2 separate regions of the Homo sapiens genome follow, and region 1 is linked to region 2. The links come from fine-mapping of genetic effects on gene expression. A gene starts in region 2. The other region holds a variant in brackets. All regions are shown on one strand. Distances are from middle to middle.

Evidence for each region. PIP is the estimated chance that this variant, and not a neighbour inherited with it, causes the effect.
Region 1: its variant is the best candidate, but not a certain one, in a credible set for the expression of PNPLA6 in testis (GTEx, PIP 0.81).

The regions. Positions count from the first base shown.
Region 1 is chr19:7,554,316-7,559,683 of GRCh38, forward strand. PNPLA6 (patatin like domain 6, lysophospholipase) reads left to right here. Exons shown (of 32, transcript NM_001166114.2): 21 at 240-408; 22 at 578-760; 23 at 934-1,052; 24 at 1,292-1,448; 25 at 2,138-2,254; 26 at 2,340-2,409; 27 at 2,853-2,969; 28 at 4,535-4,836. Among named protein-coding and RNA genes, the nearest start is that of PNPLA6, 21 kb to the left of the region's middle. The variant C/T (reference allele first, on the strand shown) is at 2,447.
Region 2 is chr19:7,533,438-7,538,805 of GRCh38, forward strand. It overlaps PNPLA6 (patatin like domain 6, lysophospholipase), which reads left to right and starts at 2,280. Exons shown (of 32, transcript NM_001166114.2): 1 at 2,280-2,583; 2 at 2,754-2,836; 3 at 3,012-3,109. The coding sequence starts at 2,352. MCOLN1 (mucolipin TRP cation channel 1) reads left to right here. Exons shown (of 14, transcript NM_020533.3): 13 at 86-216; 14 at 322-572. The coding sequence ends at 358. RefSeq lists an enhancer at 2,115-2,354.

The DNA of each region.
Region 1 (5,368 bases), 21 kb after region 2:
GGAGCCTCAAATTCTTTCAGACCTGAGTTCAAGTTCTTGGCTTCCAACCACGGAGCCTGCGTCTTACCCATAGGTCAATGGGGAGATTCGCAGTGGTGTGAATCTGCCCACCGGAGCACGGACTTCCGTGGTGGGGGTTTGGGTGTCTAAGTTCCTCCCAGCAACGGAGCTATGTGGTCTCGGGGAGCACACTGACCCCAGGCCAACCCCAGGATGACGCTGCCCCCTTCCCACCCTAGCATCCAAGAGTTCCGGCTGTCAGGGTGGCTGGCCCAGCAGGAGGATGCACACCGTATCGTACTCTACCAGACGGACGCCTCGCTGACGCCCTGGACCGTGCGCTGCCTGCGACAGGCCGACTGCATCCTCATTGTGGGCCTGGGGGACCAGGAGCCTACCCTCGGCCAGGTCGGAAGCCCGTGCCCCCTGATCTCACCCACCTCGGGTCCCGTCCTTTGCCCTCCCGTGCCTGCACCAGGCCACGTGCACCCTCGCCATGGGGGTAGGCGATCAGGGACCCAGGTGTGGCCAGGTGGTGGTGGGGCGGCTGGTGACCTCAGCCGTCCGTATTCCGCAGCTGGAGCAGATGCTGGAGAACACGGCTGTGCGCGCCCTTAAGCAGCTAGTCCTGCTCCACCGAGAGGAGGGCGCGGGCCCCACGCGCACCGTGGAGTGGCTAAATATGCGCAGCTGGTGCTCGGGGCACCTGCACCTGCGCTGTCCGCGCCGCCTCTTTTCGCGCCGCAGCCCTGCCAAGCTGGTGAGGAGCGGGCCGGCCCCCACCTTCTAGGGGCGTGGCTGGTGGGCGAGGCTTGGGAGACTGGGGCGGGGCCTGGGAGGGCTGAGGACAGGCTCGAAGGTCAGGGTACCCCTGGGGGATCCGCCGGACCCCGCCCTCATGCTCCTGGGTCGCGACTATCTCCCCCATCCCAGCATGAGCTCTACGAGAAGGTTTTCTCCAGGCGCGCGGACCGGCACAGCGACTTCTCCCGCTTGGCGAGGGTGCTCACGGGGAACACCATTGCCCTTGTGCTAGGCGGGGGCGGGGCCAGGTGAGGGCGGGGCTTGCTCTCTGGGGGCGGGGCCTGGATGTCCGAGGGTGGAGCTTCCTGGGAGAAACCGTGGGGGCGGGGCCTGGGTGTTCGAGGGTGGAGCTTCCCCTCCGGGAGAGACCCCGTGGGTAGGGGCGGGTCCTTTGTTCCTTAGCAGTGCGGGAGGTGGGAGGAGGTAGGGGCAGGGGAGTTCCTGCAGGTGGGGCCTAGCGGGTCACTGGGGCCCATTTTCCCGGCAGGGGCTGCTCGCACATCGGAGTACTAAAGGCATTAGAGGAGGCGGGGGTCCCCGTGGACCTGGTGGGCGGCACGTCCATTGGCTCTTTCATCGGAGCGTTGTACGCGGAGGAGCGCAGCGCCAGCCGCACGAAGCAGCGGGCCCGGGAGTGGGCCAAGGTGTGTGTTGCGAGGAGGGATTGCTGCACCCCAGGAGTGCCATAAAACCCGTGGTTCCAACCTAACCTGATCCCATGGGGGAGCCTCCGGGGTCAGGGTGACCCTTCCTGATTAAATCTATGATCCCCAGCTGTCCGGACTTTTATAGATAAGCTTCTAGGACTCTGGGTAACCACTTTGGGACCTCCTGTCTACTGACCCTAACCCATAACCCCCAACGAGAGCACCCAGGGCCCTTGGTGACCACCTTGTGGATGGCCTTGGATGACCACATCATCCCTAAGTGTTCCTTTTTTTTTTTTTTTTTTTTTTTTTTTGAGACTGAGTCTTGCTCTGTCGCCCAGGCTGGAGTGCAGTGGCACAATCTCGGCTCACTGCAACCTCCACCTCCCAGGTTCAAGTGATTTATCCGCCTCAGCCTCATGAGTAGCTGGGATTACAGGCACGCCCCACCAGCCCGGCAAATTTTTTTGTATTTTAGTAGAGATGGGGTTTCACCATGTTGGCTAGGCTGCTTTTGAACTCCTGGCCTCAAGTGATCTGCCCGCCTTGGCCTCCAAAGTGCTGGGATTACCAGTGTGAGCCGCTGCACCTGGCCCCTAAGTGCTGCTTGCTCACCCCCTATTGATGAACCTTATCTGTGACCCCATGTAACTCCTATTTGACCCTGTCTGGCCCCTTGTCCCTAGAGCATGACTTCGGTGCTGGAACCTGTGTTGGACCTCACGTACCCAGTCACCTCCATGTTCACTGGGTCTGCCTTTAACCGCAGCATCCATCGGGTCTTCCAGGATAAGCAGATTGAGGTAGGCCCACCTCATCCCCTGCCCTGCCTACCCCTCCCCGGAGGAGCCCCCTGCTCCTCCCCCACCTCGATCCCTGTCCCCGCAGGACCTGTGGCTGCCTTACTTCAACGTGACCACAGATATCACCGCCTCAGCCATGCGAGTCCACAAAGATGGTGGGTGTCCCCGCCCAGCCTGCAGCAACCGCTGACG[C/T]CACGTGGGGTTGGGGGGATGCTTCCGGGAGGGCCGCTGAGCTTCTGGGACGTTGTTAACACGAGTGACCGTCCACCCTGGCCCGATCACCGACCACTAACCGCCACCCACTAATGCCCCGGAGACCCCAGGTACGTCCGTCCTTGGGGGAGGGGAGCAGGGAGACTCGTCGGACGCCTTACCCCCCTCACGCCATCCCCGCAGGCTGTGTGTGGCGTTACGTCCGGGCCAGCGCCTCCTACTGCCCCTACCTGCCCCCACTGTGCGACCCCAAGGACGGGCACCTGCTGGTGGACGGGTGCTACGTTAACAACGTCCCAGGTCAGCGAGCCCATCGGGCCGGCTGGGCCTCCGGCGTGTCTGAGCGTGTCTGTGCGTGTTTGTGTCTGTGTGTCCCACCGCGCAGGCTCCCTGTGGCGGTACGTGCGCGCCAGCATGACGCTGTCGGGCTACCTGCCCCCGCTGTGCGACCCCAAGGACGGGCACCTACTCATGGATGGCGGCTACATCAACAATCTGCCAGGCAAGTGGCCGCCCGCACCACCCGCACACGCAAGCACCTCCCGCACCACACACACGCACACGCGTGGGCACACACAGACAGGCTCGATGACGGGACACATGCCCAAGCTGCCCATGCAGGGGTGCAGACACACATGCGCACACATACGATCACTTGCACAAAATGATACATGAATGTGCCTGTGGACAGCGACATGTGCAGTTGAGATCTACATTCTGGCCAGGCGCGGTGGCTCAGCCTGGAATCCCAGCACTTTGGGAGGCCTGAGGTGGGTGGATCACCTGAGGTCAGGAGTTTGAGACCCGCCTGGCCAACATGGTGAAACCCCGTCTCTACTAAAAATACAAAAAATTAACCAGGCTGGTGGGGTGTGCCTGTAATCCCAGCTACTCAGGAGGCTGAGGCAGATAAATCACTTGAACCTGGGAGTTGGAGGTTGCAGTGAGCTGAGATCATGCTACTGCACTCCAGCCTGGGCGACAGAGCAAGACTCAGTCTCAAAAAAAAAAAAAAAGAAAGAAAGAAATCTACATCTACCTGCTGGCGTGCTGTGTTAAGCACAAGTGGATGTACGTACAAGAGGGACAGGTGCACACGTCCACACACACATCAGGGGACATGCAGGTGGAATGCAACACTCGTGTGCACACCAGCTATATATGCACATGCTTTCTCTCAGGGGCAGGTAGGGCTTACACACACGTGTACACACAGGCACATGTGCACAGATGAACACGTGTGTCAGTGAAATAGGGCATTTGCCAACGCATGCCAGTCTGTCCCGTTTGTCCTGCACGTTCCCTCAAACACGCAGGGATGTGCACACACGTAGATAGGATGCGGCACCTCTGACCGAGTTAAGTCATGCCTACCACCTTTATGGGTGCAGGTGAGAAGCGGGCAGGTACACAACTTAAAATCTCACACCCCAGAAGTGTGCATATATGAACAGACATGTACGCCAACTGCACACATGCTCACAATCTTGTAGGCCAGGGGTGGGCAAACTATGGCCCACAGGCTGAGTCCTGCCCTCTGTTTGATTGTATAAATAAAGCTTTATTGAGCTGGGCACAGTGGCTCATGCCTGTAATCCCAGCACTTTGGGAGGCTGAGGCGGGTGGATCACTTGAGGTCAGGAATTCGAGGCCAGCCTGGCCAACATGGTGAAACCCGGTTTCTACTAAAAATACAAAAATTAGCTGGGCGTGGTGGTGTATGCCTCTAATCCCAGCTACTTGAGAGGCTGAGGCAAGAGAGTTGCTTGAACCCGGGAGGTGGAGGTTGCATCGAGCCCAGATCGTGCCATTGCACTCCAGCCTGGGCGACAGAGTGAGACTCTGTCTCAGAAAATAAAACAAAACCTCCCAACACCTGACCCCCCTCCTCAACTTCAGTTGCATCATTTGCACGTCTGTGCATGACAGCATGGTGTTTGCATGTGTGGGTATTCTCTCTTTTTTTTTTGCGTGATCATTTGCATGATGGCATCTGTGGGACTGGGTTGAACATCTCTGCCCCGGGCCCCCGAGGGGAGCAGCCCGCTGACCCCCCTGGCCCCACAGCGGACATCGCCCGCAGCATGGGTGCCAAAACGGTCATCGCCATTGACGTGGGGAGCCAGGATGAGACGGACCTCAGCACCTACGGGGACAGCCTGTCCGGCTGGTGGCTGCTGTGGAAGCGGCTGAATCCCTGGGCTGACAAGGTAAAGGTTCCAGACATGGCTGAAATCCAGTCCCGCCTGGCCTACGTGTCCTGTGTGCGGCAGCTAGAGGTTGTCAAGTCCAGCTCCTACTGCGAGTACCTGCGCCCGCCCATCGACTGCTTCAAGACCATGGACTTTGGGAAGTTCGACCAGATCTATGTGAGTGGGCAGGAGTGGCATGGTGCCTGCATAGGTGGTCCGGCTAAGCTTTGCTACTTAAAGCCCAGAGTGGTATGAGGGGGAGGAATCCAGGAGGAATCCAGGAATCCCATCTGGAATCTCTGGAAAACAGATCAGTGATCAATTGGTGATGTCTGCAGGGGATGTAGTAGGGGTGTGGCTGTGCATGTGCTGTGTAAGAACTTTCTCCTTATAGGCCAGCTGCACCCCTGGAAGCACTGTATAGTGATTTCTACTGCCATTTCTGCATTGGTGGGAATGAGAATAGTGATGAAGCAGAAATGTCTGCCACAGTTCCAGGAGAGGGAGGTAGCAGTGCGTGTGTTATGTGCTACTGACCCTGAAAAATGTGCCATAGCCCAAGCCAATTGAAATTGATCAGGGGGCCAGGCATGGTGGCTCATGCTTGTAATCCCAGCACCTTGGGAAGCTGAGGTGGGAGGATTGCTTGAAACCAGGAGTTCAAGACCAGCCTGTGCAACATAGCAAAACCCCATCTCTACAAAGATTA
Region 2 (5,368 bases):
ATATGGCTGGAGGGGAGGGCGGACTTCAAGGGCCTTGGAGGTTGGGAGCCACTTTCAGGCTGAGCCTCCCGGCTTCTCTCCCCAGCATCCCGGCGGCGCAGGCGCAGAGGAGAGCGAGCTGCAGGCCTACATCGCACAGTGCCAGGACAGCCCCACCTCCGGCAAGTTCCGCCGCGGGAGCGGCTCGGCCTGCAGCCTTCTCTGCTGCTGCGGAAGGTTCGAGTCCCGGGTCTGGCACATTCAGATTGGAGGTTAGGGAATGGGGAAAGGGGAGCGAGCCAGAGAAAACTGACGCCCCTCTTCCCTGCTTCCTTCCTCCAGGGACCCCTCGGAGGAGCATTCGCTGCTGGTGAATTGATTCGACCTGACTGCCGTTGGACCGTAGGCCCTGGACTGCAGAGACCCCCGCCCCCGACCCCGCTTATTTATTTGTAGGGTTTGCTTTTAAGGATCGGCTCCCTGTCGCGCCCGAGGAGGGCCTGGACCTTTCGTGTCGGACCCTTGGGGGCGGGGAGACTGGGTGGGGAGGGTGTTGAATAAAAGGGAAAATAAATGTGTCGTTTTCATTTTTAGCGGGAGGAGCAGTCCTTGCGTTAAGCGGTGTGAGGCCCTTTAAGGCGCGGCCACACTCAGCATGGCGGCCTCAGTCGGCCTTCCAAGCATGGCGCGGGGAGGAGGGGTGGGAGGGTCGGGAGGGACTGCGGTGCGACTAGGAGTGAATAATTTAAAGGGGCCGTGCCTGCGGAGCCGGGCGGAACGCTAGCGGTGTTGGCGCGGAGTGGACCCCGGCTGCGGCCCCTGGGTGAGTCTGGGTTTCCGTTAGCCTCGCAGGGGTGTCCCTTCGAGGGTCGTTAGCGAGCCTCCGCTTTCCCACGATCTGTCCTCCGATTCCTGTTAACTCTAGACTTTCTGATGTTCCCATACCCCCCACGTCTCGGCAGGTGTTTCCACACCGGTAGCCAGCTGTGCCCTGAGGTGGAAGAGGACCGGCCACCCAGGAATTTTCCAAGTAACGACTCGGAGTCTCCGGGATTCCTATCTCCCGGCCCCCGAATTTCCATTAATATTCTAGCGATGTCAGAAACATCCTCAGCTTCCCAGAAAAATCCCAGTAATATTCCAGCATCTCTCAGTATCTTCCAAGGAGCCCGGACGCCCTCCCCAGGCCCGCTCTCATAAGCACCCCAGGAATGTGCCCACCCACCTCCTGGTTTTCCCAGCAGTAGTATTGTAATCCTCAGAATCTCAGTAACTTTCCAGTGACCCCGCATCCCCACCCACTAATCCCAGCGTCTCTGGTTACGCCTCCCAGCAATGGCGCCACCATCGGTCCCGGAGTCCCAGTGATGCTCTGTGCCATAGAGCCCCCATAACTTCACTACTACGTGATAGTAAATCCCCGGCAAAAACCAGCAGCGCCTTGCAAGCCCACGCCACCCCAAGCATCCCAGGACTCTTCTGAAACGTGGGTATCAGACGCCTTCCGCGGATGCCCCGGCAGTACTCCCGTGCCTCCCAGCTCCTGGGTCTTCCCCGGGGCAGGCTTGCGTCGGGAGCCGAGTATCTAGGTGCCCACTCCCGGACCCCACGGTTTGCGGGCCCGTTTTCCTGGGGTGGGGCATTCAGTCTTCGACGGAGTAGGGGGTGCGGCCTGGGGGGTGGGGTGGTCAGGCTTGATCAACCCTGCAGAGGGCAGTGACCCGGGAGGAAGTCACCAGGTGCAGAGGACCGTGCCCTGTGGGGACCTGCCTGCAGGCTGCTGACAGTGGGTACCAGGTCGGCCTTTGGCCCCGGGGTGGGGTTGGACAGGCGGGCGTCTGGTAGGCCCTACGCGTAGGCGAAGGGAGCAGGAAGCCGGGGACCCGCCTCATCTCCTGGCCAGGGCCGAGAGGTCGGTTTGCTCCATCCCTTAGTCCCGCAGCGCCCCTCTAGCCTCGCCCCTGGCAGCTGGAGACGCTTCCCCCGCCACCCCAGAGGGCAGGGCTTGAGCTGGGGGCAGGGCTTGAGGCAGGGGAGAGGTGGGCCCAGATTGACGACTTGCACGGGTTCCTTCGACTCCTTGATTTCCCAGGACTCCGGGCTACCAGATCGGCCGTCCAGCTGGAATCAACCGATGGAGGCTCCGCTGCAAACTGGAATGGTAAGGGGTGGGGCGGAGACCGGGTAGGTGCCGGCGTGGGGCGCCAAGAGGACTACAACTCCCGGCGTGCTCAGCGCGCATTACGTGGTCTGGCGATAACGCGCTGCGTCCGCTCGGGCGGAACTACGTTTCCCGGCATGCACTGCGGGCCGCCGGGCCTCAGGGAAGAGTCGCGCCCCCGGGGAGGGAGCAGCACTGGCCCATTCTGCAGATGGGGACATCGAGTCACGGGCTGGCTACGAACTCCTCGGGGGCGAAGGTGGCGGAGAGGGATGGGTTCCAGGACGTCCTGGCGCCCGGGGAAGGCTCGGCGGGACGGATTTGCGGTGCGCAGCCAGTGCCGTTCGTCCCTCAGGTGCTTGGCGTGATGATCGGGGCCGGAGTGGCGGTGGTGGTCACGGCCGTGCTCATCCTCCTGGTGGTGCGGAGGCTGCGAGTGCCAAGTGAGCACCCGAGGGGCCCCTCTTGGGAGGCTGTATGGTGGGGGGCCCAAATGCCCGGGTCCCGAGGCGGCAGAGATGGGGATTTGCTGGCGTCTGTTCGCGGTACCCCAGCTCTGGCAGGGTGGAGTCTGCACAGAGCTCGGAGTGCCCCTGTCCCCACCTATCCCCAGAAACCCCAGCCCCGGATGGCCCCCGGTATCGGTTCCGGAAGAGGGACAAAGTGCTCTTCTATGGCCGGAAGATTATGCGGAAGGTGAGTCCGGGACCCCTGGGGTCCGCCCTGACCACACAGAGGCCGCGCCCCTTCCCTATTTACACTTCTTAGTGTCCGCCACCGCTCCTTCCTTGATGGAGACCCCCTGGATCCGTCTGCCTCTTCTCCAAGGTCTGAATTAGCAATTCACCCATCTCCGCCTTCATTCTCCCAGGTGTCACAATCCACCTCCTCCCTCGTGGATACCTCTGTCTCCGCCACCTCCCGGCCACGCATGAGGAAGAAACTGAAGATGCTCAACATTGCCAAGAAGTAAGGCTGTGCTGGGTGTGACCTGGTATTAGGGGTTATCTCAGGGGCCTTTTGAGTAATCAGCTTACACCAAAGTGTTGTGGAAGTCTTCCCATATTGGCTGCGCGCTGTGGCTCATGCCTGTAATTCCCAGCACTTTGGGAGGCTAAGGCGGGCAGATCACCTGAGATCAGGAGTTTGAGGCCAGCCTGGCCAACATGGCAAACCTCATCTGTACTAAAAATACAAAAATTAGCTGGGCGTGGTGGCATGGGCCTGTAATCCCAGCTACTCAGAAGGGTGAGACAGGAGAATCACTTGAATCTGGGAGGTGGAGGTTGCAGTGAGCTGAGATCATGCCACTGCACTCCAGCCTGGGCAATAGAGTGAGACTCTGTCTCAAAAAAAAAAAAAAAAAAAAAAAAAAGAAGAAGAAGAAGAAGAAAGTCTTCCTGTTTCAGAGAGACATCTCTGGACTCTCCTCTCAGAGCTCTTCCACACCAGACATGCTGTCTCTAGGGTATCTCTTCCCTGAGGGCTACCTCAGTGACCTTCTCCTTCCACTGGAGTATCTGAGCTATTTGTTCCCAAGTCAATATCTCAGAGGTCTTGCCATATACTTAGTGGGGGGGTCTACATCAGGGGTTTCCATGTAGGTTATTTCATGAGTCTCTTCACATGAGTGGTTTTCTTCCAGGGTACCTCACTGAGGTAATTGTGTTTCTACGATCTCCTAAAGGGGCTATCTCCAGCCTCCAGCCTCTCTTCTCCGGGGGTTATCTCAGGCATCTCTGTACATCAGAAGGCATCTTTCCTATGTTATGGACCTTGAAGTTCTTCCCACACTAAGGAGGCTGTCTCAGGAGTTTCTGTTCCCTAGGGGCTATCTTATGAATTTTCTTGCACTAGAAATATAGGAAGGATGCATCAGAGATCCCTGTTGGCAGCAAGGTCTGCGAGAAAGGCTCTCCAACTCTCTTTGCAAGTTGGGTGCTGGCTCTGGGATCCCTGTGCGTCATGTAGTCTACCTGGAGGTCTGCCTCAAGGGTTTCTTCACACCAGGGCAGGGCTCTCCATGATCAATAGTCCTGCAATGGCAGTCCTTTCTTTTTTGTTTGTTTGTTTGTTTGTTTTTGAGATGGAGTCTTGCTCTGTCACTAGGCTAGAGTGCACTGGCACGATCTCGGCTCACTGCAACCTCCACCTCCTCGGTTCAAAAGATTCTCCTGCCTCAGCCTCCCGAGTAGCTGGGACTACAGGCTCATACCACCATGCCCAGCTAATTTTTGCATTTTTAGTAGAGACGGGGTTTCACCATGTTGGCCAGGATGGTCTCGATCTCTTGACCTTGTGATCCGTCCGCCTCGGCCTCCTAAAGTGCTGGGATTACAGGCATGAGCGACTGAGCCCGGCCAATGGCAGGGCTTTCTGTGAGTTGAGTAGAAGGACTATCTCAAAGTTCCCCATGATCAGTTGAGGGTCTATACCTCAGGTTTCTCCACATCACAGGAGCTGTCTGTAGTGTTTGCACACTCTTAAGGGACTACCCTGATATCTTCATGATTGTCAGAGGGCTGTCTGAGCTTTCTGTGACCTAGGGAAGAGTTAGCCCAAGATCTCCCTGATCAAAAAAGGAATAATCATAACAATTATAATTATTATTATTATTTTGGAGACAGGATCACACTTTGTTGTTGAGGCTAGAGTGCAGTGGCACAATCACAGCTCACTGCAGCCTTTACCTCCTGGGCTCAAGAGATCTCTCCTGCCTCAGCCTCTTAAGTAGCTGAGACCATGGGCATGCACCACCATGCCTGGCTAATTTTTAAATTTTTTTGTAGAGATGGGAGTCTCACTGTGTTGCCTGGGCTAGTCTTGAACTCCTGGCCTCAAGCAATCCTCCCACCTCGGCCTCCCAAAGTGCTGGTATTACAGGCATGAGCCACCACGCCCAGCCAAAAAAGGAATTATATCTGAATTTCTTGATTTCACTGAGTTTAACTCAGGGTCCCATCCTCCAAGGTCTATCTCAGGGATCTTTTGCCAGCGGAGGGTCTTTCTCAGCAATCACTGTGACTTGTGGGGAAGGGCTCTCCCAGGTCCACGATTAGCAGAGGGGCTATCTGGATTCTCCACTTATAATGAGGGCTACTTCAGGGACCTCTGTGGCTGTCAGAGGGGCTGTCTCAAGGTTCTCTGAGACTGGGAGGAAGGTCTATCTCAGGAATGTTTATGTAGAACAGAGAGACTGTATCTGCGGTCTTCTCATATATTGGAAGC